Regions from separate parts of the Homo sapiens genome. Here all the other regions are linked to region 1. Evidence: fine-mapped expression QTL. A gene starts in region 1. Each other region holds a variant in brackets. All regions are shown on one strand. Distances are between the middles of the regions.

Region 1 (10,272 bases):
GGCCAGGATGGTCTTAATCTCCTGAACTCGTGCTCTGCTCGCCTCAGCCTACCAAAGTGCTGGGATTACAGGCGTGAGCCACTGCACCTGGCTCAGGGTTGATTCTTTAACTTACTTACCCAGCAGGTGCGCCAGCAGCTCCATCCGGTCAGAGCCAAATAACATGTGGGTTTGGCCATCCACATGGGCCACGGTGATGGGCAGCCCAAAGGCCTGGAGAAAGCAGTTACAATGCAAGGAGGAAGGCAAAGGAGCAGGTATTAGGCAGGGGTTGAAACCTTTGAGTCAGTACTTTTCTGAGTTCACAGAAGCAAAGAGGTCTAAGAGGCTCTGTGGCCCCAGGTGCCTTCCTGTTTCTAAGATGCTCTCTTTTCTCTCACTGTGCATCTCCTTCCCTTCCTTTCCCTGAGCCCAAGGAAAAGAAGGAAGAAGATGAGGGTTGTTTAAGAGCACTGAGGAGAACACTTGGAAAGGGGGCTTTTGTACAGGAGCATAAGGACTCAAACTTAGAGATTCTCAAGTCTCCATCTTCAGGATGGGTGCTGGGAACACACATAAAGAGCTGCTCACTCCGTATCTGCAGGCTGCCTCAGTGGTCTCCTTGAGCTGGTTCTTCACCTTTGGCGTTGCGATCTTTTCCAGAAGTCCCTGGGCTTGTTCTGCAGACATACCAGCCTTCTCTGCAGCCTAAGGGAATATAGTAGGGAATACAACTGTGTCTGCATGATATTGGATGGGGATCTCAGAGGAAAACTCTGGTCTTTTTATTTTCTGCCCCCAAGTTTTGCTGGCAATGCCCTTACCCACCCACAAGTGGAGATCTGTCCTTGCCAAGAGGAACTATTTCCTTTATCCCAAATCTTGAGATGGGTGGAAAAGGAGAAAAGGTAGATGGCACAGAGTCAATCACAGAAATTAACACCAGCGGACATCTTAGAGAGCAGCTAGATAGACCTCTTTATTTCACAAATGAAGAGCCTGAATCCAGAGGTGATACATTACTTGCTCAGAGTTACAGAGCATGTTGGTAGCAGAGCCAACACTAGAATCCAGGTCTCTAGAATTCAAGTCCAGGGCTCTTTCCTTCCTACCTCTCACAGTTCCTAAGTATCTCATGCTTTTTTTGAATCAAGAGCTAGGCTGTAATTCCAGTGGAACTTCCTGAGAACTTTGTAACAAGGCACATGGCTGCAGCCACCTACCTGGCTTCAAGACAAAGATAAAGGCTTCAGTTTGTGGTTTGTTGGTATAGTTTGGGATAGATGGTTCTTAACTTTGGCTGCCCATCTGAAACTCCTGAGGAGCTTTAAAAAATCTCCACGTGAGGTCATCCCTTAGAACTAGATCCAAGCACTGTGGCTCATGCCTGTAATTCTAGCACTTTGGGAGACTGAGGCAGGAGATTGCTTCAGCCCAGGAGTTCGAGACCAGCCTGGGCAGCAAAGTGAAACCCCCATCTCTACAAAAAATTTTTAAAAAATTAGGCATGGTGGCACATGCTTGAAGTCCCAGCTACTCGTAAGGCTGAGATGCGAGATCACTTGAGCCCAAGAGGTTGAGTCTGCAGTGAGCCATGATCATGCCACTGCACCCCAGCCTGGGTGACAAAGCAAGACACTGTCTCAAAAAAAAAAAAAAAAAAAAAAAAAAGAAAGAAAGAAAAAAAAGAACAAGAACAATTACATCACAATTCCAGGGGAAAGGGTTAGCGCCAAGGTGCTCCAGGTGATTTTAATTCACAGCCAAGATTGACAACCACTGCAACTTGACTTCCTAGATCAGAAGTGGGACCCAGGAATTCATGTAGCCTGTCCTAATGAGACACTATCTTTGACTTGGTTAAATTAGAGAATTATGTCCTACACAAAATGTTTAACCACAGAAAAATGGTTAAGCAAAACAAAAATAAGTCCACTCAGTGGAACCTCTATAGAAACAAAGAACTATACTTTCAGAGTTAAGAATTCCATGGAGGCTGGGCACAGTGGCTCATTCCTGTAAACACAGCACTTTGGGAGGTGGAGGCAGACAGATCTCTTGAGCACAGGAGTTTGAGACCAGCCTGGGCAACACAGTGAAACCCCTTCTCTACAAAAAATAAAAAAGTTAGCCAGACATGGTAGTGTGTGCCTGTAGTCCCAGCTACTCAGGAGACTGAGGTGGGAAGATTGCTTGAGTCCAGGAGGCAAAGGGTACAGTGGGTCGAGGTCACACCACTGCACTCCAGCCTGGGCGACAGAGCCAGACCGTGTCTCAAAAAAAAAAAAAAAAAAAAAAAAAGCATGGAAAATGATTAAATATGAAGTAAAAAAGCAAGCTAAAAATTACACATGTACTTTGCAGGAGTATAGACTGTAGAAGATATATTTGCCATTCCTTATACGTTTAACTTTTGTGTGATTTGCCACTTTATATATTAAATTTGAATAGGTCTCAACTATTTTTTTTTGTAAACCAGAGGAATAATACTGTTTTGAATTTCCTAATTTAATCCTGAAGACAAACTTACTTTTATACCCCCATCCATGGCTCACTGGTCAATGTTTTGAGCTATTTCCATTTGTTCTCACTCAGGCTCCTATATAACCCTGGCATTAGTTATCTCTTTTCGTCTTTTTAAAGCCTCTTGGAACAAGTCTCCTGCCTTCCACTCTGGATGTGTTGGTGAGGTTTGTGTTGGAGTTTGTGGAGACTTGTGAATACTATATCCCTCCCCATCCAGGGGTTCCAACACTGAGCATCTTTCTCTCACTGACATCTTTCAGCAAATAAATTCTTCCCATATATTGTCCCTTTTGCACTTCCCCTTTCAACCTTGAGATATCCTTTTGAGGATCCTTAGTTCCAACTTTTCAGTAGTTTGTGCCCTGAATCACAGACATCCTTTCTTCCCCAGTAATTATAACCTTTTCCATGCAATAAGAGACCTATTGTCTTCTTTACCCCCAAACGCCAACTGTTCTCAGATTCTCTATGAGTGCAGTTGGGGTGGAGCCAGGACACTCACCGCCAGGATGCTCTGCGGCTCGGTGATGTCTTCATTCTGGGAAGAAGAGAAGACAGCAGGAAGGCGGTGCGGGGAGAGGGGTGTGACTGGGAGGACAGTAGATCCCCCGGGCGGGGGCAGGATCATGACCCTGAAAACGTGCCTGGGGAAGGTCAGAAAGTCATCCAAGGTCCTCCCAGAGGATTCCCAGAGCCCCACACTCACCCTTGACCAGACGCGCATCCACAGCTCCCGGGACGCTTTCTCCAGCATCTCTGGATGCTCCAAGTTCACGGCGGTGAGGAAACGCATGGCAGACAAACTTCCTGTGGGGCAGAGGCACCCAGAGGCAGGGCTCCTCTTGCTGCTTTCCTGGTGGAGGACTAGCTCTTCCTTGCTTCTGACATCCCCCAGAGCTCCTCCGCCCTCAGCCTCTCACCCAAGGTTCCCATGACCTATTTGCCTGCTCTTCTTCCCTTTCATGCCCGGCAACCTTCAGCTCGCTCAAGGCTGATCCTGAGGTTTCCCAAGGCAGGCTTCACTTGCTTTAGTCTCCCGCAGCCCCTCCATCCTATCAATCCCTCAATCTCCGACTTCTGTGTTTTTCACTGGATACCCTGTCTACATCCCACTCTCTTCACCTTTTTCAAGCATCACAGACAAGAAATCCTTGGGGAAGTGGATGGGAATCTGGAGATGGTGTCTCAGGAGCTTTAAGTCATTTGCCATGTATAGTCCTTTGCGGGGAAGCAGACCTGGAGGCTTGTTTCCTGCCAGGAGAAGGTTGGGCACGCTAAGTGAGAAAAGACCTAAGGGTCCCAGGTTTGGGGACCTCGACGTGGGTTTTGGGCAGAGGGCAGCTTCCTTTTTTTTCTCTTGTTGTTTCGCTCTTGTTGCCCAGGCTGGAGTGCAATGGTGCGATCTCAGCTCACCGCAACCTCCGCCTCCTGGGTTCAAGCGATTCTCCCGCCTCAGCCTCCCGAGTAGCTGTGGTATACAGGCATGCACTACCACGCCCGGCTAATTTTGTATTTTTAGTAGAGACGGGGCAGAGGGCAGCTTTCTGGCTGCCAGTGCCAATATAAGGACCCGCTGGGGTCGGCTCTCTTGGGCCACTGAGATCACCCCTGCCCCGACCCTCCCTTCCTACCACTGTCTTTCATGATCCCTGTTATGAGGCTGGGCCGCAACTGCAGGTTGATGTTCCAGATATTCTGATACCGGCACAGGATCTGCGGGCAGAGGTCAAGAACGATTGCCAGTGTGCAAGATGGAAAAGTGAAAGAGCCGAGGGAAAGGGAAGGGAGGCGCTAAGTGCAGAGCAGGGGTTATGCGGACACCCTACATTGTTTGGTTTGAAATTGGCAAAACTCTCCTCACTACTAGAAATCTATTCCAGGATCTTCGCTCCTGTGGCCAGTTTTCCCCAAAACTGCCATCGTTGGGCTAAGAGGTGGCCGTGTTCTGCATTTCTCCCTGAATGTTTGGAGCCGCCCCTCTTTCCACCACCGTGGGAAACTGCAGTCGGGATATAAAGGCTCGGGTTGGAGCCAGCGACTCTATTCCGTTTAAAAGCACAAAGTGACCTTCAGCCCCGGAGCTCTCCCTGCTTGCCTTAACCCCTTGGGCGGCGCCAGGAGTTACACGAGACCTCTGTCCCGGAGCCCTGCGCTCACTCTTCCCTCCGCCCTCACTCCCCAGACACTGCCGAGGCGACCCCTCCCAGCGTCACCTCGAAGCCCAGCCAGGAGTAGGGGGACAGCACGTCATAGAAGAGCTCCACGGTGCGCGGCAGGGGCCCCATGCTGCAGGCTCCGGAAGAGCAGTGGCAGCAGGAGCTCCTTTTCCCGGAACCCGGCAGAGGCTGCCCAGCTTCTGGGCCTGCCTGGGACCGCCCACCGCCTTAGCGCGCAGCCTCAGAGAGAAACTGCCCTGGTAGAGGTCCACCTCCGGCGCAGCGGGGCAGGGCCAGCCTACGGCCCCCAGCCAGGGGCGGGGTGGGTAGGGACCCCTTGGGGAGCGCGCAGGTGTGGACAAGGGGCGCTGCAATCGCCTTTGCAAAAATTTTAACAGTGAGAAAATTACGAAGGTGAAACAGATCTGAACTCACCAACTCCATCGTGCCTTTAACCTCCAAACTGCCCTTGGTCATTCCTGAGCATGGGACGAGCTAATATAGGGAGAAATTTAGTTTATAGTTTAAATGATAATAGCCCTTCCCCAAACTAAACCAGTTTTATAAAACTAATAAAAGTCCACAAGTTTAGGATTATGAGAGGGGCCTGAATTCTGCTAAGATGTAGGCATTAACAATTACCAGACATTGTTCCAGAGGTCACAAGCTCTGCAACTTCCCCAATTATTCCTGTAAATAACCACTTTTGTAGAACCTAAGACTGGCCTTTGAAGATACCTTCTCAGACTTTTCCATTTCTAATGACAGGATGACTCCACCTGGACCAGTGACTCCTCTGTGGCCCGCATCCAAATGCAACTCGGTGCACTGAGGACGGTTTTCCACACCCCTGTGATTGCATCCCCAACCAATTAGCAGCACCCATTCTCTAGCCCCTTGCCCATCAAACTATCATTAAAAAACTCTAGCCGGCGGGCATGGTGGCTCACGCCTGTAATCCCAGCACTTTGGGAGGCTGAGGTGGGTGGATCACTTGAGGTCAGGAGTTCAAGACCACTCTGGCCCACATGGTGAAACCCTGTCTCTACTAAAAATGCAAAAATTAGCCGGGCATGGTGGCATGTGCCTGTAATCCCAGTTACTCGGGGGGCTGAGTCAGGAGAATTGCTTGAATCCGGGAGGCAGAGGTTGCAGTGAGCCGAGATCATGCCACTGCACTCCAGCCTGGGTGACATAGCAAGACTCCCTCTCAAAAGAAAAACAAAAACAAAAACAAAAAAACCCACAAAGTCCCCTAGCCTCTGCCTCCGAATTTTGGGAGGCTAATTTGAGTAATAATAAAACTCTGGTCTCCTGTTTAGCTGGCTCTATGTGTATTAAACTCTTTCTCTATTGCAATTCCCTTGTCTTGATAAATTAGCCCCATCTGGGTAATGGGCAAGATGAACCCATTGGGCTGGTGTCAGGGTGACTGTCCTGCTCTGCAGTGGAGTCTTGTGGGAAGGGGGTAGTTTGAGATGCCTGCAGTGCCTTTCACTTAGCTGTGCCCCTTGGGTGAGCCACTTGACCTCTCTGAACCTATTTCCTCATCCTGCATACACATGGGGAATATCTAATGATAACACCTGCCTTATGACGAGTTGTGAGGAATGAGGTACTCCAATAACTGCTAGCTCTTATTATTGTTGCTTGGCAGTTGCATGAATCTCCTAAACTGGGGCAGAATAAGAAGTTCTCAGAGTACACATTTTCTTGTGTTACCTTTGTCAGAGATTTGCACAATGTCTGGGACACATTTGACCATCGATACATATATTTTGAGTGAGTGAAAAAAAAGAGGGACTGGTAGAAGATGGAGAGGCCTCACTATAGATAATTTTGGTGATAATGGAAACGATTGGCCCTATTCGTTTTCACAAATATGTGAGTCATATTGTCTTATATTGGGATTACATTTACTGCAAAGAAACAGAATTTTAAAATAATTCCATTTAACTTTGTTAAAATTATTTTTAACATTACTAATTTAATAAATTGGAAAACATATAAAGATTCCACTTTTCATTTGTATCAATAAGGAAAACAACTCCAGGCTATCAGAATACAGAGATACGAGGTAAACCCCTACATGGAGAAGAGCATGCAAAATGGAATGAAAAATGATGTTATCATTACCTACTTGCAGAGTAAACTAATTGTTCAACAACCACTGAAACTAAACTTTTTTTTTTTTTGAGATGGAGTCTTGTTCTGTTGCCCAGGCTGGAGTGCAGTAGCACAATTGCAGCTCACTGCAACCTCTGCCTCCTGGGTTCAAGCAATTCTCTCTGCCTCAGCCTCCCAAGTAGCTGGGATTACAGGTGCCCACCACCACGCCCAGCTAATTTTTTGTGTGTTTTTGGTAGAGATGGGCTTTCACTATGTTGGCCAGCCTGGTCTTGAACTCCTGACCTCAGGTGATCCACCCATTTTGGCCTTCCAAAGTGCTGGGATTACAAATGTGAGCCACCACAGCCCACCTTGTTTTTTTTGAGACATGATCTCACTCTCGCTCAGACTGAAGTGCAGTGGTTCAATTTTGGCTCACTGCAACCTCTGCCCCCCAAGCTCAAGCAATTCTCCCACCTTGGCCTCCTGAGTAGCAGGGACTACAGGTGTATGTCACCACACCCAGCTAATTTTTGTTTTTTGTCGAGGTGGGGTTTCACCATGCTTCCCAGTCTGGTCTTGAATTCCTGGGCTCAAGTGATCCTCCCACCTCGGCCTCCCAAACTGCTGGGATTACAGGCATGAGCCACCATGCCCAGCTACATTTTTGTTTTTCTCCAGTAATCATAATTTTAAAGTGTCCAAGAGCTAATTCAGCGTGGTAATTTAAGGTTTCATTTCAAAGGTAGATCAATCACTTATTTTAAAAAGCTTTTTATATTTGGAAATGTTTTAGATTTATAGAAGACTTGTAAAGATAGTACAAGGTTTCTGAATACCCCTCATCCAGCTTTACCTAATGTGAAAATCTTACATAAGTATGATAATGATAAAAACCAATACATTAACATTGGTACATTACTTTTTTTTTTTTTTTTGAGCTGGAGTCTCACTCTGTTACCCAGGCCGGAGTGCAGTGGCGCAATCTTGGCTCACTGCGACCTCCGGCTCCCAGGTTCAAGCGATTCTTCTGCCTCAGTCTCCCAAGTAGCTGGGACTACAGGCGTGTGCCACCACGCTCAGCTAATTTTTTGTATTTTTTAGTAGAGACGGGGTTTCACCATATTGGACAGGCTGGTTTCCAACTCCTGATCTCGTGATCCCCCTGCCTCAGCCTCCCAAAGTGCTGGCATGAGCCACTGTGCCCAGCCTGGTACGTTACTATTAACTGAACTGCAGGTTTTGCTCAGATTTCACCAGTTTTTTCATTAGTGTTCTTTTTCTGTTCCAGGATCCAGTCCAGCATACATACAGAATTTTGTTGTCATGTCTCTTTATTCTTCCCATATCTATGAGAGTTTCTTGGCCTTTTCTAGTGTTTCATGACTTTGACACTTGTGAAGAGTATTGATCAGCTATTTTGTGGCATGTCCCTTCATTTGGGTTTGTCTGATATTTCCTCAGAGTAAGACTAAGGTTGTGGACTTTTGGGAAGATTACCACAGAGGTAAGGTGCCCTTCTTGAATCATGTCATGAGGTACAGGGATATCAACATGACTCATCACTGGTGGTGTTTACCTTGGTCACCTGGTTAAGGCGGAGCAACTGGAAAATTTCTGCACTGTAAAGTCACCATTTTTCCCTATCCAAACCCTAGTTTTTGGAAGGGAGTCAGTAAGTGCAGCCCATCCTGGGAGTGAGGGTTGAGTAGATTAAGTCCATCCACTGGAGGGAAGAATATTAAAGAAGTTGTGGATATACGTTAACACTACCATGGTAACTAATAAATATTTGGGGGAGATACTTTGAGGCTATGCAAATATCCAGTTGCTCCCTAAACTGTCACCCATCAGTTTTATTATTCATCAGTGGATCTTGCCTGCAGCAGTTGTTACTGTGGTGTTCTAATGGTGATTCTCTATTTCCTTAGTTTTTTTCATTTATTAATTGGAATTCTTTTGACAGGAGAGTTGTCCCTTCTTTCTATTTATTTATTTATTCAGTCAGTTATTTATATCAGTATGGACTCATGTATATTTACTTTAAGAATCACAGAATAATAAAACATTGATCTGAGTCCTTACAGTCTATCTCCACATACTATTACTGTTGTTATTATTATTATTTTTAGGTTGGGCCCTGTTGTGGATAAAATGGAGTAGAGACAACAAAAAGAAAAATATATTCACTTCTATGGGCTATCATCTTCCTATTGCTGAGAGGGGTATTTAGTGTTAAAAGAAAAACCTCAGACAATTTAAATTTAATGGAGTTTATTTGAGTAAAGAATGATTCTTGAATCAGGCAGTACTCAGAACCAGAAGAGGTTCCGAGAGCTCTGCAACTGTAAGCAATGAGTATTTATAAGCAGAACAGGAAGGTAAAGTACATAAATAGTTTGATTTGTTGCAGCTAAGTGTTTTGCTTGATTTAGACATGAGCCAGTCCGTTGGCTGCTTGCACTTAGCTGAAGCTTGGCTGCTTGTGATTGGCAAAGACCTGGTTATCTGTTATAAAAATGAAACTCCTAAGTTAAGTTTCAGTTTGTTTACATACTAAGTTAGGTTGCATTTTGTTTCATAGGAATTCAAAGCATGGAGACTGTCTCAGGTCAATAGCCTCCTGCTTACTTAATTTTACTCTAGATACTGATTAGAGCTATTGAAACAAGAAATAGTGGTATAAGTAAGTTATTTGAAGTGGGAAAAGCACTAAGTAGAGGAACAAAACATGATATAATTATCAAACATTGGAGGAGGCAGAGGAGAGGTGGTGTATGCGATCCAAATTCTCATCTTTCGTAGATGAGCCAATGGTATTATCTACATTTGAAAGCTCAGTAAATAGCGCTTTAATCATGTCATTTGGAATTAAATAATTGATACTGGAAATGCTTTAAGTTGCCTTTTCAAATAAATAAAAAATTGACTATTCAATAAATGATATTGGGACAACTGAGAGGTTTTTTTTTTTGTTTTTGTTTGTTTGTTTGTTTTTGTTTTTTTGTGAGGAGTCTCGCTCTGTCACCCAGTCTGGAGTGCAGTGGCACGATCTCGGCTCACTGCAACCTCCACCTCCTGGGTTCAAGCGATGCTCCTGCCTTAGCCTCCTGAGTAGCTGGGATTACAGGCGTGTGCCACCATGCCCAGCTAATTTTTGTATTTTTTAGTAAAGACAGGGTTTCACCATGGTAGTCAGGTTGGTCTCGAACTCCTGACCTCTTGCTCCGCCTGCCTTGGACCCCCAAAATGCTGGGATTACAGGTGTGAGCCACTGCGCCTGGCCCAAAAATGTATTTAGATCCATACCTCACAACTTACACATGGAACACCTCTAAATGGATCAAATATCTAAATGTTATAAAGAGGAAGCCAATAAAGTGCCTCAAGAACTTATGGAGAAACTTTTAAAACAGCTGAGAATAGAAATAGCCTTGCTAACTGTAATACCAATGCAGAAACCTTAAAAGATCGATGCATTTAATTATATCAAATTTTTAAA
Region 2 (10,272 bases), 35 kb before region 1:
TGCCAAATCAAATACTCCTTGTAAATGGAACTGAAAATCATCTAAGTCCACAACTCACTTGTTCAATTAACAATATGCCTGGGAGTCACAGTGCTTTTTATTGCAATACATAATAAAATATTGATATATTTAATTACATAAACAAGAAAAAACAAGGTAATAAATAACAAATACGGTTACCATATGTATGCTATATAAAAATCACAACCTCGAACTATGTATCAAAAAATAATAAAACTAAGTATGATCAGTTGTTTCCAAGGTGGTTTTGATATCTTCGAAGCACTATGTTTATTAATTTCATAAGATAAATTATAGCAAGCATCCAAGATTTAAGAAAAAAAATTTTTAATTTATTTTTTAAAATAACTTTTTAAATCTTTTTTTTTCTTTTTTTAATAGAGATGGGGTCTTGCTACGTTGACCAGGCTTGTCTTGAACTCCTGGCTTCAAGTGATCCTTCTGCCTCGGCCTCCCAAAGTGTTGGGATTATAGGCATGAGTCACTGCACCTGGCCTTATGAAAATTTTAAGAGGAAAAACTTAAAGTGGGGAGAACTTGACTGTTTTCTCCCAGAAAATTTAAAAAGATCATCCTTATTCAATTTTAGCAGTAATTTCTCAACATACCCTGAGCAGATCCTTGCTCTTGATACAAGCCTTATGTATCCCAAGACAGACTCTTATTTTTGATGATGTTGTTTTATTTTGGGTGTGGGCAGGGGTGCTGTCAGTAGGCAAGACAGATGGGGAGGACTCTCAGGTCAACACATCAAAAGTAAGAGTATGCTCTTTTACAGTACTTCCTGATCCATGCAATGTCGAGGGAGCCTAGGAAAGAAGGGAAGCTTCAAGAATTGGGGGAAAAGGACCAAAGCACAGGTTTAATAAAAATGTGTCAAGCAACTGCCATGTGTTGGGCACTGTCTTACTTTAAGGCCTAGGGATAGAGTGAAGAGAAAATTCCTGCCGTCATGGAGCTTACACTCCAGTTTAGAAGCTGACTGGGGCAGGGGGGTGGAGCTTTTTCTAGACATTAATTATATTAACCAAATACAGCAGGAAGACAGGTGAACTCAAATTTTCAATGGAACAATTGGCTACTGGTCATTCCTTGAAGGATTTAATTTCAGAAAAGTTAGAGAGACAGAGCAAAAGATCCAGATTACTCCAGAAAAGAGCAATTACTCCTTATCCAGATCCAATAGTGTATTAAATCCCTGGATATAGGATGAGAAAATCACAATTTAACGTCGTTTTGTTAGTAAAGACGCCTAAAGGAAACAGGCCAAGCTAAAGAGAAAGGAGAATTCCTCTCTCACCTTTATATCACAGATCCATCAATCAATAAATGTCACTGGTTCTTTTGTCACAATATCCTCATATTTGTTTTTTACATAATACCTACAGTTTTTCAGGCAGATTAATTTTCATCCATTCATTGAACATTTATAAGTGCTACCATGCATCAGGCAGTGCCCTGGGCCTGGGGATAGAGCAGGGAATGAAAAGTAAAGTTGCTGACCCATAACCTCTTTCCTTAGTGCAGCCCCCTCCATGGCAACCTTGCTGGAAAAACAATTCATCACATTATTTCTTACTTAAGCTCCCAACTGTTCCTTACTTTTACCTGCTGATGTCCAAAACCTCAGTTATGACTAAAGGTTTGTAAGGAGGTGAACCCACTTCATTGTGACCAGCCACATCTCACATACTCACACAGATGCTATTTTAAAATCAGATCCGAGCATCTGTTTGGGAGGAGGGGAGACACAACATGCCCTCTGCCTCTCAGTGTACTTATCATATTGTATTGTTTCTTTCCTACGACAGACTCTAGATACTACTCTATAACTATGTAAATCAAATTACTCCAGGTACAAATTAAGCCTTATCTTATCTAAAAAATCTCTTTAAACTACCCTCACTTAAAATGATCTACTCTTACTGCATACTCCTTCCTAAGTACAGTTTGTACCTTGCTAATTTCACCTTTGCTTACATGAGGCCTGTGAACTAGTCTTAAGCTACTTCATGTATATTTACTTTATTTTCCTGAGTAACTGGTCTGCTCCTTAGAGAGGCCACATTTCCTTCTGCTTTTGCGGTAGTAACTGCCGTAGTCTGAGTCATGTTGCAGGGCCTCAGCAGACTATATTCTGCGGTAATACTAGATCAGGATGACAATAATATTAGCTATTTACATTTGGCCACATGAGAGATTAAAAAAGTAATTATTTGAATGTTTGGACAAAGTGACCTTTAAAGCAAACTATAAGCCCTTTACGGCACTGATCGTGTTTTAAGAGTTACAGCTGGCATATTTTGTGGATGTGCTGTGAGCCAGGTACTGAGCTATGTAAGCCCTTAAATGCATAATCTCATTTAACCATCACAAGCACCTTATGAAGTAGGTACAAGGACTATTTTCATTTTATATTGAGGAAACTGAGATGGAGGGATGCCATTTAACTTCTTTAACTTCACGTTACTAGTAAATGGTGAAGTCAGAATTTGACTCCAAAGTTAGGGCTCTTAATTACTATTATTTTCCTCCAGGATGAGAAGCACACCTATGTGTCTTTTAATCCTCGTCCTGCAGTCCTGGCTCTTAAAGGAGTAAAACAGACTGCATGAGAGAAAGAGGGGCAGCAGCAGCTCACGGAAAAGGAAGAGTCAAAGGCCAACACGGATTCTGTTCTGCTATCCTGCATGACCCAAGAATGGTAAGAAGAAAGAAGAAAGGAGGCAAGCATGGAAGTGTAGGTAAACAGGGAAGTATATGGAACAAGTGAAAAGAACAAAGAGTGAAAGAAAGGAGATAAAATAAGAAGGACAGGAAAAAGACAGATCAAAAATCCGTAACTGGAATGAGTAACCAAAAAAAGGGCACCAGAGTTAATGAAGCACAGAAAAGAGTAAGAGTTCTCAGAAAGGAAGGCAAAGACACGGGATAAGAGACCTGAAAACAGGATATGGTGGTGCACGGAGAGCTGACCAGCCTGAGAGCCATGGGCTGCCCAAGTCCCAGCACACCCCATGCATTGGGAGACACTTACAGAGCAAGAGAGGCGGTGGCAGCAGTGAACAGAAGGAGGTGCCCAAGGGATCCAATAGCACCTGAGAGGAGCAAACAGGAAAGTGAGAGCTGGTGGGAGGCTGCCCAGGAGCCACCACCCAGGTGCTGGTCTGCTAGGGCACTCACCTCCACGGCAGGCCTGGATGAAGAACATTTTTGGTTTGTTCTGTAGGCTTGGGCAGTTGGCGTTGTCAAAGAGCTGAAAAACCTCTTGGAGCTGCCAGAAAGAAAGAAGGAAGAAGAGAGGTTAAGCATTCAGCGGGGCCTCCTAAGTCCTACACATGCAACAGTAGCCATCACTTGACAGACAGCAGGCAGGAGGTAAAGCAGCCTGGTTTCAACAGTTGGCTTCCACCAGGGTATCCGCACCTGGAGCAGTTTCCCATCCACACCATAGATGGCGCCCTCCACACCATGCGAGAGGAGTGCCACGATGCAGGAGTCCGTGACTCGGTGTGCAGGTAACTGTGCAAAATTCTGCAGTTTCTCTTGCATTTCCTAAAAGAAAGGAATGTTTAGTGTTGTGCACTAAGGTCAGCACCAACATAAGCATCAAAGTTTGGTTTCTTTTTGAAACCCTAAGCTATTAGAAGATAAAACGCTTTATGTATATTCCTGTGGTCAATGATAAAAGAAGAGACCTTTTGAGAGACTAAAGAAAGCTATGGACTCACCAGAAAAATGCATATGAGTTCAGACACAATATTCTGAATACAGATTCAGACTCACTGAGATAGGCAAACAGCTCCTGGATTAAAGCAAGTTACTAAAGAAGCTAATCATGAGCTGGTCAACTCTGATTAATTCCCTGTTCATAACCAGATCCTTCATTAGAGCAACTGCCCTTGTATATAAATGGCACAAGGGTGACTCAAAGTGTAGCTATGAATAAGTAACATGCACATTCAGCTACACGAAAATAAACTGTTCTGTGACAGCATCATGATAGTAGAGAATAGCAATACTTGTATGTTGTCTTCTAAGATTCTAAGTGTCCAAGAGATAATGATGATGACTGTATAAAATGCTTTGTTTCAGAAAGAGCACGCTATGAAGGAGGATTCTGTACAGGGCAGTAATTACATACACAGGTCCTGGGTTCAGATTAATCTAGGTTTGAACCTTGGCTTCATGAGTTGGAACAGCTTACTCAGACCCTTGAGACCTCACTTTTCACTTTATAAAAAAAAATTATGAGGATATTTTCTCTAAGTTTGTGAAGATAAAAATGAGATATTATGACAAAGGACTTGGCCTGGACAACCTAGCAAGACTCCATCTTTAAAAAAAAAAATTAGCCAGGCATGGTGGTGCATGCTTATAGTCCCAGCTACTCTAAAGGCTACGGTGGAGGGATCACTGGAGCCTAGGAAGTTGAGGCTGCAGTGAGCTGTGACTGCACCACTGCACTGTAGCCTGGGTGACAGAGAGAGACCCTGTCTCAAAAAAAAAACCAAAAACCGATCACTGTGTCTGGGACACATTGCAAAAAAT[G/C]TGCCATTACAATGTGCATGTCGAATAAAGAGTATTTTTCTCAAAGAAATCTATTACTGGTCAATGTTGTAGTCCAACTTAAGAACTGTTTTCCTGTTTATCTTTTTTTTTTTTAGACAGGATCTTGCTATATTGCCCAGGCTTGAGTGCAGTGACTATTTACAGGTGTAAGATCACTACTGATCAGCACAGGAGTTTTCACCTGCTCCATTTCTGACCTGGGCTGGTACACCCCTCCTTAGGCAACCTGGTGGTCCGCCACTCCCAGGAGGTTACCATATTGATGATGAACTTAGTTTGGACACCTGATCAGCATAGCACACTACAGCCTAGAACTCCTGGGCTCAAGGAATCTTCTTGCCTCAGCCTCTAGAGTAGCTGGGACCATAGGCATGTGCCACCATGCCTGGAGAATCTTGTTTATCTTGCACTAAGTTGCGATACATGAAGAGCACTACCTTAAGCATTTGGTCCATCCATCAGAAGGTTATACTGTGTACCTAAAGAGCATAATAATTGGGCACACATGTTTAAACCTATGCCTCCCTCTATAATTCACGATGTCTGGGTCTTCTGAGATGGGCAGAAAGAAAACAAGTTCATTTTATTATAAACTTGAATAAAATGTAATGAAAATAAGTAAGTTATCTGGGTGGAAGAGTTAAAACACACATATATTTAATCACACACACTGCCAAAATAAAAAGCACACTTCTATAATATAACATATTGCAGTAGTTCTCAGAGTGGCCCCTAAAGCAGCAACAGCAGCATCACCCAGGAACTTGGAAGAAACGTGAAATCTTGGGCTCCAGCAAAATGTGTTTTAACAAGCCCTCCAGGACACTGTGATATGTTAAAGTTTGAGAGCTACTAATTGATCTGTTCGGAATACTTCTGTTTGTAGATAATTGAGATGCAATTACATAAAATATTTGAAAGTCTGCAATATAACTAGAAATAAAGAGACTGGTGTTGTTGAAAAGTATCTGTATTTTCTAAGTAGAAGCAAACCATAATAATAGAAATCTTAAGGTAATGACAGATAATCAAAAAATTCTTTCAAGAATATATAATTTCAAGAGAATACATAACTGTGAATGTTCCTCTGGAGCTGATGCTAATAGAATTTAACATTTAATAGTTAAAGAAGTTAATTTTGCTCAAAGAAGAAAACAAAGGCCGGGCGCGGTGGCTCACGCCTGTAATCCCAGCACTTCGGGAGGCCGAGGCGGGTGGATCACCTGAGGTCAGGAGTTTGAGACCAGCCTGACCAATGTGATGAAACCCTGTCTCTACTAAAAATACAAAAATTAGCCGGGCGTGGTGGCATGCGCCTGTAATCCCAGCTACTCAGGAGGCTGAGACAGGAGAATTGCTTGAACCTGGGAGGCAGAGGTTGCAATGAGCCCAGATCGCGCCATTGCACTCTAGCCTGGGCAACAAAAGTGAAACTCCATCTCAAAATAAAAAAAAAGAAAACAAAAATTATATACCTGGGCACCGAATCACGAGCATTTTGAATTTAGTGAGATTAGGTCAGTAAATAGAAAACAATGTCCAAAAAAAGAATACACGCACTTTGTAACCAAACTTAGTAAGACTAAACCATTCAATAAATGGGGATTAGACATTTGGAGGAATTTTTCTACAAGTAGCATAGCTTAAAATAGGATCTGCAGATTTGTTTTTGATAAAATTACAGTACTTCTATAAATAGCAGGGTTCTTAACTCCTAAGTGTATTTTTGGCTAGGGGTTGGGGGACATGTGAAGAGAGTAACTTGTGAACCCTCTGAAATTATATGCTAAATTATATGGGCAGCTGCATTTTCCAGGGATAACCCATAGCTTGTCCTTACATTTTCAAAGCAGTTTGTGACCCAAATGCAAGCTAAAAAAACAATACCACATGGTAAAAGGAAATTTCCACTTTGAAGAGTACGTTTCCTAACATAGGGTAAATCATAATTCTAGAACTAGTAACCTCATGAAGTAGATGCAATAAAAACTTAATAACAAAGAGAAAAGTGAAAACATCTGGGCAGTGAGAATACCCATGTTCACTGCAGCACTATCAGGGGAAGAGGAGTCTCTAAGACTAATTATACTATTTCCTGTTTTTAAATGGAATTCCTCTCTTAAGTAAGAAAGATTTGATAGGGAAAGAAAAAAGGATCTTTTTTTTTTTTTTGGTTCTGTTTCTTTGCTTGCCAAATAGCTATATGATAAACGAGTTGACTCTCTAGGGAGATCCCACCAGGAAGAGAGCATTCTGTGCAGATGCCCAGTGTACCAAATTATGACACCCATTGCAACTACCTGGTTTATAACACACACATTTCTTGTCCACATACTGTTCTCCCTGCCTAGGGTGGCTTCACCACTCCTCTCTGCTTCAGTAACTTCTATCCTTCAAGGCCAGCTTAAGTTCTGCCTCCTCCACTTATCCTTCTGATCATATCTACCTAGGCGCTTCTTCTTCTTAGCTATGACAGAAGATTTTTTCTCTAATCTTGTTTGGTCGTTAGGAATATAAGAGGACACACTTCCTTTTATGCTGATGTCAAAACTCCCTCATCTGATCTTTAAAATCTGTGGCAGCTCACATAGTCCCCCATTATAAGGTGCTTGAAGTTCAACTCTACTGCAATTCCAGTTACAGAGCAATTCAACCAAAGAATTAGAATCCAATAGGTCACTGAATATGCATCAGGCTTACCATAAATGGAAATGCTATTTATGAAGTGAGCTCATAAACTCACCAAATCTGACAGTCTCTGAGAAAACAGCAGTATATATAGTTGACTTAGTGACTCAGTATTTTATCTTTAACTATTAGACATGTAAGATCCTTTATCAGCTGCATACAACTTGAAAAACCATGACATAATAGATTTCTAGTAAAAGACATGGCTAGACCAAAACCTCTAAGAAAACACACACACTGCACATTTTGTTAAGTGACCTTCTGTAGGAATTATGGCTGGTACCCTGCCCTTTGCCCCTTTATGCCCAGCAGACTTCTCAGGAAAGCATATAAACTACCTGAATACTTGATGACTGAAGCAGCTGTTGCTGCCATGGCTTTGAAGCAAGGGTGGATTTAACTACATTGCATATGCTACAAGGGGGAAGCTGGCAAAAATAGCATGTAAAGGACAACACCCAGGTACCTGTGGATGAAACTGGCCTTGCCAAAAATATAGTAAATACATAATTACTCTCACAGAAGGAGGGCAGCTAAGAAAGAGAAATGAAGACTACAGACAATGCTGAATGGAAAACAAAGATCCTCTATCCCAACAGATCAAAGTGAATCTCCTAGCAATTTTAATTTCACCACTGACAACCTCAAAGCAAGTTGAAGAAAGTTCTACTATTCTGGAATCAAAATAAAGAGTGAATATGAATCTACAAATAGGCCATTATTGATTGCAAAATAGAAACCCTAAAGGTCACAAAGTCAGTTGTGCAGTACAGTAACTGAGGTTAATGACGAACAGCCCATAATGAAAATGTTTACAATTTCTAGAAATCTGGTCCACAAACAATCTACCCTATGACTTGTGATTACACAAATGTTAAGAATACTTTCCCAGCCAGGTGCCGTAGCTCATGCCTATAATCCCAGCACTTTGGGAGGCCGAGGGGGACGGATCACCTGAGGTCAGGAGTTTGAGACCAGCCTGGCCAACATGGCAAAACCCCGTCTCTACTAAAAATACAACAATAAGCCAGGTATGGTTGCATGCGCCTGCAGTTCCAGCTACTCAGGAAGCTGAGGCAGGAGAATCGCTTGAACCTGGTAGGCAGAGGTTGCAGTGAGCCGAGATCGTGCCATTGCACTCCAGCCTGGGTGACAGAGCTAAACTCTGTCTTTAAAAAAAAAAAAAAAAGTGAGACACCAACTGTGGACTATTATTACTTTATGAAACCACAACCTGAGATGTCAACACTAAAATGGCTGGCCGGCCCTAATTCTTTCTTACTAGAATGCAAGGTGAGAGGCAGAACAGAGTGAGTAAAAATGTAAGTAGAATAAACCAACTTTTAAGACATATCCCAGCAGGCACAGGAACAAACGATGTCTCTGGTCCCAAAGTGTTGTTCAGTCCTCTAATTTACATGTCAATTTTTCCCACCTCAGGTACCTGTGCAGTCTGGTCACATAGAACATGGACGTCATAGCCCAAAAGCTTGAAGAGGGTGACTAGAGTACTGTGGTCCACATCCCCTCCAGAGCGAAATTCCAGTTCTTTCTCTCCAGTGAAGTGCACATTGCTCAACACCAGTGCTAGGCCACGAGGCCGAGACTGCAACCTATATGCCTGTGGAGGAGAGGCCAGTTAGACCATGAGCGTCTTGATAACAGATGATTCCTCGGCTAGATTAGACATTTCAAGAAAACAAAGACATCGTATTTTTCTTCTTAACCTCCAGCAGGTAAAAATAGACAAATGCTCACAGAAGGCATTTAACCAGTAACAACTTTCTGACTAATAAGGCAGAAAGGAAATGTACATGCAAACTAAGTTCAGGTTCCCAGGAAGGGTGTCTAATTTCCCAACTCTCTTCCTCTTGTCATTATGCAAAAACTCACCAGCTGGAAGTGTGTTTGATAAAATTCAGGAGTGCAAGGCTTCACCTGAAGGCAGACAGGACCATCTTTATTGTCTAGGGAGTGTTCCACAGTATCTGTGGTATAGACAGAAAACCAAAAAACTAGTATATAACTTAACCATCAATCTTAATATGTCATTGTAACTTCAGACATCTCTTGCAACTGGGTTGTGATAAATATTGGTCTCACTCACTACCCAAACCTGTAAGCTTCATGAGGGCAGAGACTCTTAGTTTTAGCTCACTAAAGGATTCTCTGCACATAGCCTGCATGAAGCATATGCTCAACTGGCTGAATGACCGAATGGGCTAGCTGATAAAAGCCTCGTTCCAATCACTAGGATGCTCCATCAGCAGGCTGGTGGCCCCAAATGTAGTCTTTTCTTATTCAGCTTTTTAGAGGCCAATTGAGCATGAACTTCCTGCCCATACATGCTACTCAAAGGCCCAATTATCACAAAAACTGTTATCTGGGGTGGAAGGGAAATGGACCAACTATTAATAACACCTTGCCTGGGCCGGGCGCAGTGACTCATGCCTGTAATCCCAACACTTTGGGAGGCCGAGGCAGGCAGATCACGAGGTCAGGAGATGGTGAAACCCCATCTCTTACTAAAAACACAAAAAATTAGCTGGGTATGGTGGCACGCACCTGTAATCCTAGCTACTCAGGAGGCTGAGGCAGGAGAATCACTTGAACCCAGGAGGCAGAGTTTGCAGTGAGCCGAGACTGCACCATTGCACTACAGCCTGGACGACAGAGCAAGACTCCATCACAAGAAAAAAAAAAAACAAAAAACCACAAACTCCTGCATAAACTGTCCTACTAGCCCTTAACAAATTTACTGACAACTGTTCCCAATATAAACTATGTCTCAGCTGGGCATGGTGGCTTACGCCTATAATCCCAGCACTTTGGGAGGCCAAGGCGGAAGGATCATTTGAGGCCAGAAGTTTGACACCAGCCTGGGTAACAAAGTGAGACTCCTTCTCTACAAAAAATTTAAAAATGAGCTAGGTGTGGTGGCATGCACCTGTAATCCCAGGTACTTGGGAGGCTGAGGCAGGAGGAGCCCTT
Region 3 (10,272 bases), 38 kb after region 1:
TGAATGTGTGTGTTGGTGTGTGTGAATGTGAGTGTGTGGGGTGTGTGTGTGAATGTATGTGGTGTGTGAGAATGTATGTGGTGTGTGTGAATGGGAGTATATGTGAGTGTGTGCATGAGGTGTGTGTGAAAGAGTATAAGAGTGTGTGTGTGTGTATGTGCGGTTCAAGTGAATGTGTATAGGTTTCTTGTTCACAAAGTTATGGAATTGGTGTGAATATCATAGCTGAGTTGAAAGGTAATACTTGTTACCTGAATTTAGCCTCAGTCATTTGGGTGGAGCTTAGGGTGACCAACTGTCCCAGGTTATCCAGGACAGAGAGGTTTTCTGGGTTGTGGAACTTTCAGTTTATAAAATCTGAGTGGTTGGTCACCTTAGTGGTGGCAATAGATAAAGGGTACAAATTGTGAGTAGTTGTATGTTTGAAGGGTACTTGGTGGATAAGGAAATAGAAGAAAACTCAGGCAGCTGAATAGATATGGAAGTCAAGGGTGAAGATCTTTAAAACAGAGAGAGTGGCCAACAGTGCCCCACCCTTAAGGGGATCAGAGGCAATGGAGACTCAGGCCACAGGTTTGACTTTTTAAAATATTATTAACTTATTCAGATCAGGACTTACTAGGCATGTTTTTTAGTTATTTAGCCTTCAAAAAAAAATTCTGCCATTGGGTACAATTAATGCCATCAGTGCCAAAAACGTAAATTAGAATATAGACACAAAACTTAGTGAAATAACTCATGAAAGATAAAATATTAGGCAAAGGTGTTTGAATCACTTAACAATTTGATTAGATAACAAAGAGGTTAAGACCATTTCTTGTAGTATTTGGAGATATTTAATTTTTATTATGTTAAGATAAATCTCACATAAATCTTAACAAATCTTAGTTAACTCTTATGAGTAGAGTGTGAGTGTCAGGTGCTATTCCACTGAGCAGTGAGATGAGGGAAGAACGGGCCTATGGGGTCTTGGTGTTTTCCGCAGGTCACATTGCCACTCCCTCCCTGCCAAGCATTTCCATCACTCATGGTCTCAGCTGCACTCAGGGCCGCCAGCCATAATCTACTCTCCAGCTACTGGTTTGAATAAACCACTGATTTATTTGCAGTCCCGAGAGCTGTAGGCAGGAAATGCAAACAGCAGCTTTCCCTCGGGAGGGCTAGATGTAATGGGACCCTTCTCTGTTTTCCATCCTCAGGCTCTGATGGGAATCTCTGAGGAAGCTCAGTGGAAAATTTCTTTTTCTCTCAGCCCTGATTTCTCCTAAATGGCTCAGTAAGACCGAGAGAAAAGGATTTTGTCCTGAGTTATCTGCTCCCCACGGTGAAGGAACTAGGGAAAGAAGATCAGGATTAAAAAATTGTTTTTAGAGGATAGGCGTTTTAATTGTGCACATTTGAGGTTTAGGGTACATTCCTGACTCCACAGTACATAGATGACTACTCAGGAATTTTTCACATTATAATTTAATCCAGTATTCTTTTCTAGCCTGTGTACTCTTGGAGGGTAAAATTTTTGTTGAGTTGATCTTTATTTACTAAAAATGCATTAAGAAATACATTTTTGTTGAATGAATGAATGCACTTATCTTCATATCGTGGTTTACAATTTATTATAGACATATTTTATTTGAGTCTCATAGCAACCATGTGTAGCGGATGTTATGATTATTTCTGCTTTCCAGATGGGGAGACTGAGGCTCAGAAAGGTTTAGTGACTTTCCCAAGATCACACAGAATGGAGACTGAAGTCTAGATCTTTGACACCGAATGTAGATTCTTTCTATACACCACATTTCCCATCATTATTCAATAAACCAGCCTGTTGCTTAGTCATCTAAAAGAACACAAAAATACAAACATTGCCCTGCTGGATCAAATTCACAAGGAGAAAGCACTCAGAAAGCCTAGTGTTCAACCTCAACAGAGATGGTTTGTAGAGGCATGACTATTTCAAACTCATTGTTATCAAGTGAGTAGCTTCAGGGCAATAGCTTTCAAAGCCTTAAGGAGAAACAAAATTTGGGCTCCGTGTCTATCCTTAGCAGGTGGGAGACAGGGGACTAGAACATTAGCTTTCTGTTTATTTTTTTATTTTATTTTTTTACAAAGAGCTAGTGGACTCTATTTTAAAGATTGCACAGGGACAGAGAAAAGCTGGAGAAATTGAAAGTGGCAAAAATATTGGGGAAGTTGCCACGTTCAAAACATGGCAAAAATTCATAAAAAAGGATGAGTTCATGTCCTTTGCAGGGACATGGATGAAGCTGGAAACCATCATTCTCAGCAAACTAACACAGGAACGGAAAACCAAACACCGCATGTTCTCACTCATAAGTGGAAGTTGAACAGTGAGAACACATGGACACAGGGAGGAGAACATCACACACTGGGGCCTGTTGCGGGGTGGGGGGCTGGTGGAGGGATAGCATAAGGAGAAATACCTAATGTAGACGATGTGTTGATGGGTGCAGCAAACCACCATGGCACATGTATACCCATGTAACAAACCTGCACATTCTGCACATGTATTCCAGAACTTAAGGTATAATAAAAAAAAAAAAAGAAAGAAAAAATAACATGGCAAAAGTTGCCACAATAAGTATCCCTGGTTTTGCAATGAAGTGTGACTGGGTCCTGGGGAATGCTGTGCCTTCAGGGGTAGGAGAACATGCCTGAGTGAAGGGTCTGCAACTGCAGCCTGGGGGCAAATCTGACCCACTGATTCTTTTTGTTTTGTATGGCCCACGAGATCAACTAAGCAAAAATTTCACCCTCCAAGAGTGCACAGCTGGGAAAGAATGGACATGGCTGTGCTCCAACAAAATGTCACATCATGAAATATTAATTTTTTAACCATTTAAAAATGCAAGAGGCATTTATTAAAAATGCATTTTTAATGGTTGAAAACATTAAAAGAAGAATAATATTTCATGACACGTGAAAATTATATGATATTCAAATGTCAGTGTCCATAAACAAAATTTTGCTGGAGCACACCCATGTCCATTTATTTATTTTTTGAATCACCATGGTGGCTTTTGTGCTGCAACAGAAGAGTTGAATTCTTCTGGAAGGGACTGCATGTGGCCCACAAATCCTAAAATATTTACTCTCTGGTCCTTTACAGAAAAAGTTTGCTGACCCCTAACCTAGTGCCTGTTAGGTTCAAATCTACACTCAGATAACTGTCGGGCAGCTAAACTGTGGAATACTAGATGTCTTTCATTTCTGACATTGTCAGGAAGTGAACAGGAATCCAATTCTTAAGGCCACCCTACACTTTTCACCTGCCACTTGGATGACTGAACTACTGGATCCATGGCCATGTTCTGCCACCAAGCCTGTGGGACTATAAAGGCTAAGCCTTCTGTGTGCATCTGGCCCAGTCTGGTCTGTCCTTTTCATATCTGGCCTGCTTTAAATATCCTCATTCTAGATGCCTCTCAGTGTCACTCCACTTCCCTTTGGAATACTAACAGCTAACATCTATTGATGGCTTACTCTGGGTCAGATGCTGTGTGCTAAACACTTTACCCCATTCTTCTCTTAGGATGAGATAACCCTAGGAGGCTGGTATTTCCCATTATTGTTCCCATTTTACAGATGTGGACACTGAGGTTCAGAGAGATGCAATAACATGCCCATTTGCACACCAGTAAGTGGCAGAGCCAGGACCCAAACCCAGTCTCACGACTCTGGGAACTGCACGGGCGGGGGTGTGGAAGTTGAGGGGATGCAGGTTTTTCTGTTAATGCTCCACCCTGCCTTGGATCCCCTCCTGCTACTGCTGCCATACTAAACCTAGGGGGTGGCTGGTACTTTTCTTTCTTGGGCTATCTTCAAAACCACTTTTCTCTTATTTTCTTCTTGATGCAACTGAAAGAGGGTAGAACATTCATAAGACACTTTGCTAAAAAAAATAAGAAAAACCAAATGAGAGACAAACCAGGAAAATTTTTTACAAATCTGTATTCTTCCTACTGACGTTGTTTGATGGGCTAGCGCCACAGACACAGAGCACCTTTGCAATACCACACTGGGAGGGAAGAGTCCAACCCAGAAATGCTCCTCTTCAAAGCTCTTGGAAAACTTTGTTTTGCTGCTTACAGGGTAATCCCCACAGGCCTAGGCAGAATTGTCAGTTAAGAGCTTCTCCCAACTGAGAGTGGCCAAGATTAACTCAGCACTCAACACCTCCACATCTTCCCCTTTAGGTTCCCACTGCCCCAGCCCTTCACACCACCCATTTTCTGCTGTCTGCTCCCATTTTCCGCCCAGGCCTGCCCTTCCTGGGCCATGTCACAGGCTCCAAAATGCTTCCATCTTCCTCCTGTCAACAGAAACTTGTAGCAGTGTAACATGTTACCTCTTCCCAGCATACACTTGATTTGAGCATTTCCCTGAAAGTTTTGCCTCTCCTATTTTAGGCAACGCTTCCCCCATTTAGAAAAGGGTACAGAGAGTTCCCCCAGCCTTCAAACATTACAGACTGGCTTTTTAGCCGTTCTGTCCTCCTCTTTCTCCCCCAAACAAATCTTTCTGAGTACATAAGAAATTTCCTCCTCTTACCTCTCTTCTAAAGATTTTTCTTGGCTGGGTGCGGTGGCTTATGCCTGTAATCCCAGCACTTTGGGAGGCTGAGGCGGGCAGATCACAAGGTCAGGAGATCAAGACCATCTTGGCCAACATGGTGAAACCCCATCTCTACTAAAAATAAAAAAATTAGCTGGGTGTGGTGGCACATGCCTGTAATCCCAGCTACTCAGGAGGCTGAGGCAGGAGAATCGCTTAAACCAGGGAGTCGGAGGTTGCAGTGAGCCAAGATGGCACCACTGCACTCCAGCCTGGGCGACAGAGCGAGACTCCGTCTCAAAAAAAAAAAAAAAAGAAAACTATATATATATTCCTTGTCTCCAGAGGAGAGGGAGAAAACGTAAGACAGATGGGAAGGCTTCCTCTCTCGGTGTCTTTTTTTTCTTTCCTTCCATGATCTTTCCTAATGCACAAGTTGCCCTGTCTCCAACAAGACATAATTAGTTAGCCCTTGGTTTCTGCTCCCCTCCCCCAGCACAAGACATTTTAGACTGGTTGGACTTA[T/C]AGTTTCTTTTCTTTTTATTACATAGATGTTTCTTCCCTGCTGCCCCAAGTAAAGAATGCCTGAGAGAATAACAGATTTCCTGTAGAATAAAAGCAAAGAAAAGCCAGAACCACAGTGGAATTTTAGCAGACACCGAAGTAGTTGGAAGGGGAAGATGATACTGGATTGTGGGACAATCTGGTGCCCATAAAGTCATAGCCCTTAGACTGGCCATGGCTGCCAGTCTAGCCTTTATTTGCAAGGACTCGACCAGGTATGAGGAAAGAAGCCAGATACCCTGCCTCTGGGCTGGGCCTGCCAGACTGGAATCCATTGCTAACCAAAGTCCCCTTACCTGCTCCACATGCTAGATGAATATTCAGAGTGACTTTGTGGGTAAAGGAATCCTTCACTCTATCACTTTCAACATCCCGCAGGGCTGTGGGGCGAGGGAGATGATGTAGAGTTTGCAAGGTGAAAACCTGTAATAATATTGAGACCACAGCAAGCCGGGCTTTGCATTTGGTTACAGACTTTTGTCCAGCAGAGTCGATTATTGTCTTCATTTAGGACTTCTGATTGCTGTCTAAAGCCAGACAACTTGAAGACTAGGTATTCTGGGTCTTTCTGAGTGCTTACTTGGGTTTTACATACAGAAGAAAGAGAATTGGAGAGAATTTTATCTCGTTGAAGGCAGGCCAACATGTGCATCGATAAGGATGTTATCATCCTTGGAGCTTTTGTTAGCTATGTGCTGCCTTAGGCTCTTGCTAGCAATGAGATGATATTTCTTCATAGTAAGTATGGAGTTATCCACTTTGTGGTCTTGACATGGTTCATGTTAATATAATGGCAACTTTAAATCAATTTTCTCTCTAACTCTGTAATGCATCAGAGAACCCTTAGTGGGTACATGACCCTTTTATCAATATATATAACTTGGAAGAAAATGTATATTTCTCTATTCTAGGGACTGGAATAAAACTTCAATATCTAATTTGTCTTACTATAACAAATACCGCCTGAAATAGTCATATAAATAACTATAGCTTAAGAAAACTATCAAAAATGTGTGTTTTATTAATATTTTACTTTTCAGGTAAATAAGTCCCAAGCTGTCTGAGCTATAAAGGAATCTGTGTGTGTGTGTGTGTGTGTGTGTGTGTGTATGCCATGTGTCTGTGTGTATGCCGTGTGTGTGTGTGGTTTTTGCAGTTTATGGATGTAAGGAACTCTCTCTGAAATGTGTGCTTGAGAGCGCTGGAGCTCAGAACTAGACTTTGCTACTGACCTCATATTTTCATTTGGGGGCTACCTAAGCTTGGTATGATCCACAGCATTCTTTTTTCATTTTCCTCAATAATCATGATTTAAAACTTACCTAATAAAAGACAACTTCAGATTCCTAACGTTCAAGCTCTAAGATATCTGGGGAGAGGGTGTCCAATGTTTTGTGAACAGCTCTTTGAGACAATGCTGCTGGAACCATCCTGAACAATGACAATGGAGAATAATGTTTTTCCTCTTCTCCAGCAGCCTGCCCCAAGTAACCCGCTCTTGCCCCACTATTTACTTCAAGGTAACCCAGAACTGGTAAAACCAGAGGCACAGGTGCCGCTAGCATTGCCACAGAGTCAGGAGCTGAGCAAAACAGACGCTTACTTACTCTGGCCTCTTCCTTTTCTCTTTCTGCTTCCTGCCCACTTCACTCTTTTCCCTGCATTCTTTCTTTCCTCTCTGCTCACTTTGTCCCCTCCCATTTGGAGAAATAAAGCATTGAACTGACCCTTCACATATCCATCTGCCGTTCTATAACTCATCTTTATCTGCAAACATCCTCTCTAGACTATTGGTTTTTACCCATCCCCTCCCTTTTGGCATTATCTTCTGGAACTCCTGGGATCAGGATGTCACCCTATCACTCCACTAATGGCACACATGGCATCCTTTTAGTCAAATCCAGAGCCTTTTTCTTCACCCTTTACTTTCCTCGGAACTCTGCAGCACTTGATAATTTCCAGCAGCCTTTCTTTCCTGAATCTTCTTTTTCTGTAGCCACTCTGGTTTCCCTTCTACCCCGTGGACTGAGTGCTGTGCTCTGCTTCACCAGCCCTAACTGTGTGTTAGTTGGGTGTCTTAAGTAGGATGATCATGTAATTCTTCATCCAGACCATGATATTCTTGAGAATTAAAGGATGCTCAATTGACAACAGACAATAAACAGAGATTGTCCCTGGCAAACCGATATGTCTGGCCACCCTCTCCTTAAGGCTCAGGAGGAGAAGAAAGTGGAGAGATCTCAGGGCAGGATATGAATGAACATAGTTCAAGGAGCTTTCAAAGTCCATCTTCAGGTTTCTTAGTTACTTCTGTTTAGAATCTCAAGTTAAAAATTCAGCTTCATATTTATAAAAGGATCACGTTATCTGAGAAGTGTCAGAGCAGGTTTGGGAGAGAAGAGACGGGTGAGGAGAGAGTTCTACCTGAGGCAAAGGCAGAAGTGGTTGGACCAGGTCCCGCAGAACTCCGTGAGTTCCAGTCACAGAGTCTGCCCTTTTAGGTAAAGAGGAACTTGGTGCTGAAACCGCTTCCAGGCTCTTCTCAGCCCAGGGTTGCCCAAGATCAGTTGTACTGAGTGGCCGGCAGGGTAGGCAGCCATGATGATCTTGCACAAAATATTCCAGGAACTGTAAGTGTCAAAGATGTTGGACGTGGAAAGAAATAGAGCAATTGCATTGAAAATGTAGAGGATGAGAAAGTAGCTGGTGGCTTTGATGGCCCCTATGTGAGCCTTCATGCTGGGGTCCCTGGACCCTGTGGCATTGCTTCCCATGTGTAGGGTGTGTCTCTTGAGAGAGAGGATCAGCAGGGTGGCTGCCAGGATGAACATGATCAGAGGAACGAAGATCCCCATGTTATAGAAAAATACCAGGTTGACCATATTGGTCTCAGAGAAGTACTTCTTCTCCGTGGAGTTGGAGGAGGGGATAGGAATGGAGCTATTCACATACACATTGAAGACATCTCTCGAGAGAGGAAAGCTGAAGCTTAAGGAAACCAACACTGACAGCCTGAGAAGCCAAGGCATCAGCACTATGATTTTCCTCTTCATCAGGAAGAACAAAGGATGATTGAAGTTTGCAATTCTAAGACAATAGAAGACTTTGAGCCAGGCAGCAAACCAGAGATTGGAATGGTTCAGAAAGACAGTGATGACTTTGAAGAGGATATACACTGAGTTTTGGTTATAAACAATTCGGAATAGCAGACTGAAAATGTTCTCCAGCATCATCCAAATCTGTAGCAAGAGCCTGGAAAAGCTCAGCATCAACATAATGCGGTCACCAGTGGGGAGTGTTTTGCCCCTGGCCCACTCAGCCCCATAGATGGCCGTGATGAAGCCACTCCCAAGGATGCCAGTGATGCACTCTATTCCGGAGACCACCAAAGTGAAGGTGACCTTGAACTTGGATATGTCTTTATCTGTGGCATCTGTGTTCACCGTTGCCATTCTCTTTGATCCTGACTTTCAGGTTTCTGCGCCAAGAATGGGTAACTGCTCTGCAATCTTCTGACCCTTGCTCAATGTTATAATTTCTGCCGCCCTCATTAATGGTTATTTCCAATTTTTCTCCATTTGTTTATCACATGACTACAAGTTAGAGGCTTCACATGCAAATAATGAGAGGATCTGGTTACTGGGTCTGTCTCAATTTTTCATAAAGATACATTTGTCTTGGGCTTTCAGAAGCTCACTGGAAATAATTTGAGACATGTTTCTAGCTCAACACCTTCTTACCTTATTTACTTTAAGTCCACATTTACCTGATAAGCAATGAATACAAGGCCTTTTTACTTGTCTCACAAGATCTCTGTTACCTGCTAAATTATTTGTAAAAGCTCATACAGCTTTTAAAATCTGTTTTCCCCACTTCTTTTCTTGTCTCTCTTATTTTGGGAGAGAGTTTTATTTTGATAGTTACCATGTTTGTGAATAAGAAATTCCCATAAGCTCATATATGAACATCTTTTACTTAGAATTGAGTTTCTTCCAAAAAGGCCTGCTATTATAATGTCCTCGAATAGTATATAGAAAAGCCAAAATTGGATGCTATTCGAGTTGGAGAGAAGGAAGTCTCCATAGTCCCAGTTTTTATTGTTTGTGTATGTGTCATCAATTTCAGCTTACTGAGATCCCACATGACTATTTGAGCTCAGAATCAGGTAGAATGAGCCTGGGGAGAATTCAGTGTTCTGGACATGGTGTTGAAGTTTGGAAATGTGATAAGGTACTATGACTTGAAATTTAATTTCCTACTTTTTAACCCTGGCTGTGAACCAGAATGAACTCTGGCACTTTACAAGAATATGTAGATGCCCAGGACTCGTCCAAATCTAGGAAATCAGAACTGGACTAGGGCTCAGGCATGCTATCTTTTAAAAAAGCCGAAAGGTCTTGTTGCTCATAGTCAGGATTGAGATCCAAAATCTTAGCTGGAAACCAATGAGCCTTGGGTCAGATTTGGCCTGTAGTCATTTTACCTTGCATTGGTTAATGCTGTACAGCATTAATCCACCAGTGTGTAACTTTTCTTTTTGAGGGGTTCTATTGGCAAACATTTAAACTTAGGAGATTACTTATATGCATGCACAAAAAATCTATCTTCTCTTGAAAAATTAGAAGATTTGGCAGTATTGGGTCTTCATAGTGAACTGGCTGAAGCTGAGTAATGGCTGCCCATTTTAAACAAGGTATATACTTTTCAGTTTGTTGACAATACTAATTCCTAGTGTCTTCTTGACACAGAAGCTGAGTGCCAGTTATCATTTTCCAGTGTGCTTACCCTGTTATTTTTATTTGATTATTTTTCTTTTTGAGACTGGGTCTCACTCTATCACCCAGGCTGGAGTGCAGTGGTGTAATCATGGCTCACTGCAGCCTTGACCTCCATAGCTCAGGTGATCCCCACACTTCAGCCACCTGAGTAGCTGGGACTACAGATGCATGCCAACACACCTGGCTAAGTTTTGTATTTTTTGTAGAGACAGAGTTTCGCCATGTTGGCTAGGCTGATCTTGAATTCTTGGGCTCAAGCAATCCTCCCATCTCAGCCTCCGAAAATACTGGGACTATAGGTGTGAGCTACCATCCTTCACACCTTGGTCCATTATATTTTGGGCCTTGGTCCATT

Evidence for each region. PIP is the estimated chance that this variant, and not a neighbour inherited with it, causes the effect. A credible set is the group of variants that fine-mapping cannot tell apart.
Region 2: its variant is the best candidate, but not a certain one, in a credible set for the expression of GSTK1 in blood mononuclear cells (TOPMed, PIP 0.64).
Region 3: its variant is the best candidate, but not a certain one, in a credible set for the expression of GSTK1 in whole blood (TOPMed, PIP 0.87).

What each region holds. Positions count from the first base shown.
Region 1 is chr7:143,258,032-143,268,303 of GRCh38, reverse strand. GSTK1 (glutathione S-transferase kappa 1) reads right to left here and starts at 4,863. Exons shown (of 8, transcript NM_015917.3): 1 at 4,719-4,863; 2 at 4,137-4,218; 3 at 3,628-3,756; 4 at 3,212-3,312; 5 at 3,008-3,043; 6 at 571-687; 7 at 120-213. The coding sequence starts at 4,790. The region is part of intron 2 of TMEM139-AS1 (TMEM139 antisense RNA 1); the gene reads left to right. It overlaps LOC105375546 (a long non-coding RNA gene), which reads right to left. Exons shown (of 3, transcript XR_007060569.1): 3 at 5,097-5,156. RefSeq lists enhancers at 4,616-4,835, 4,654-4,948 and a silencer at 4,976-5,045.
Region 2 is chr7:143,293,227-143,303,498 of GRCh38, reverse strand. CASP2 (caspase 2) reads right to left here. Exons shown (of 11, transcript NM_032982.4): 5 at 9,175-9,269; 6 at 8,726-8,902; 7 at 3,448-3,576; 8 at 3,205-3,295. It also overlaps the pseudogene RN7SL481P. Among named protein-coding and RNA genes, the nearest start is that of CASP2, 10 kb to the right of the region's middle. The variant G/C (reference allele first, on the strand shown) is at 4,573.
Region 3 is chr7:143,220,398-143,230,669 of GRCh38, reverse strand. TAS2R40 (taste 2 receptor member 40) reads right to left here and starts at 8,633. Exons shown (of 1, transcript NM_176882.2): 1 at 7,591-8,633. The coding sequence starts at 8,591. The coding sequence ends at 7,620. The variant T/C (reference allele first, on the strand shown) is at 5,101.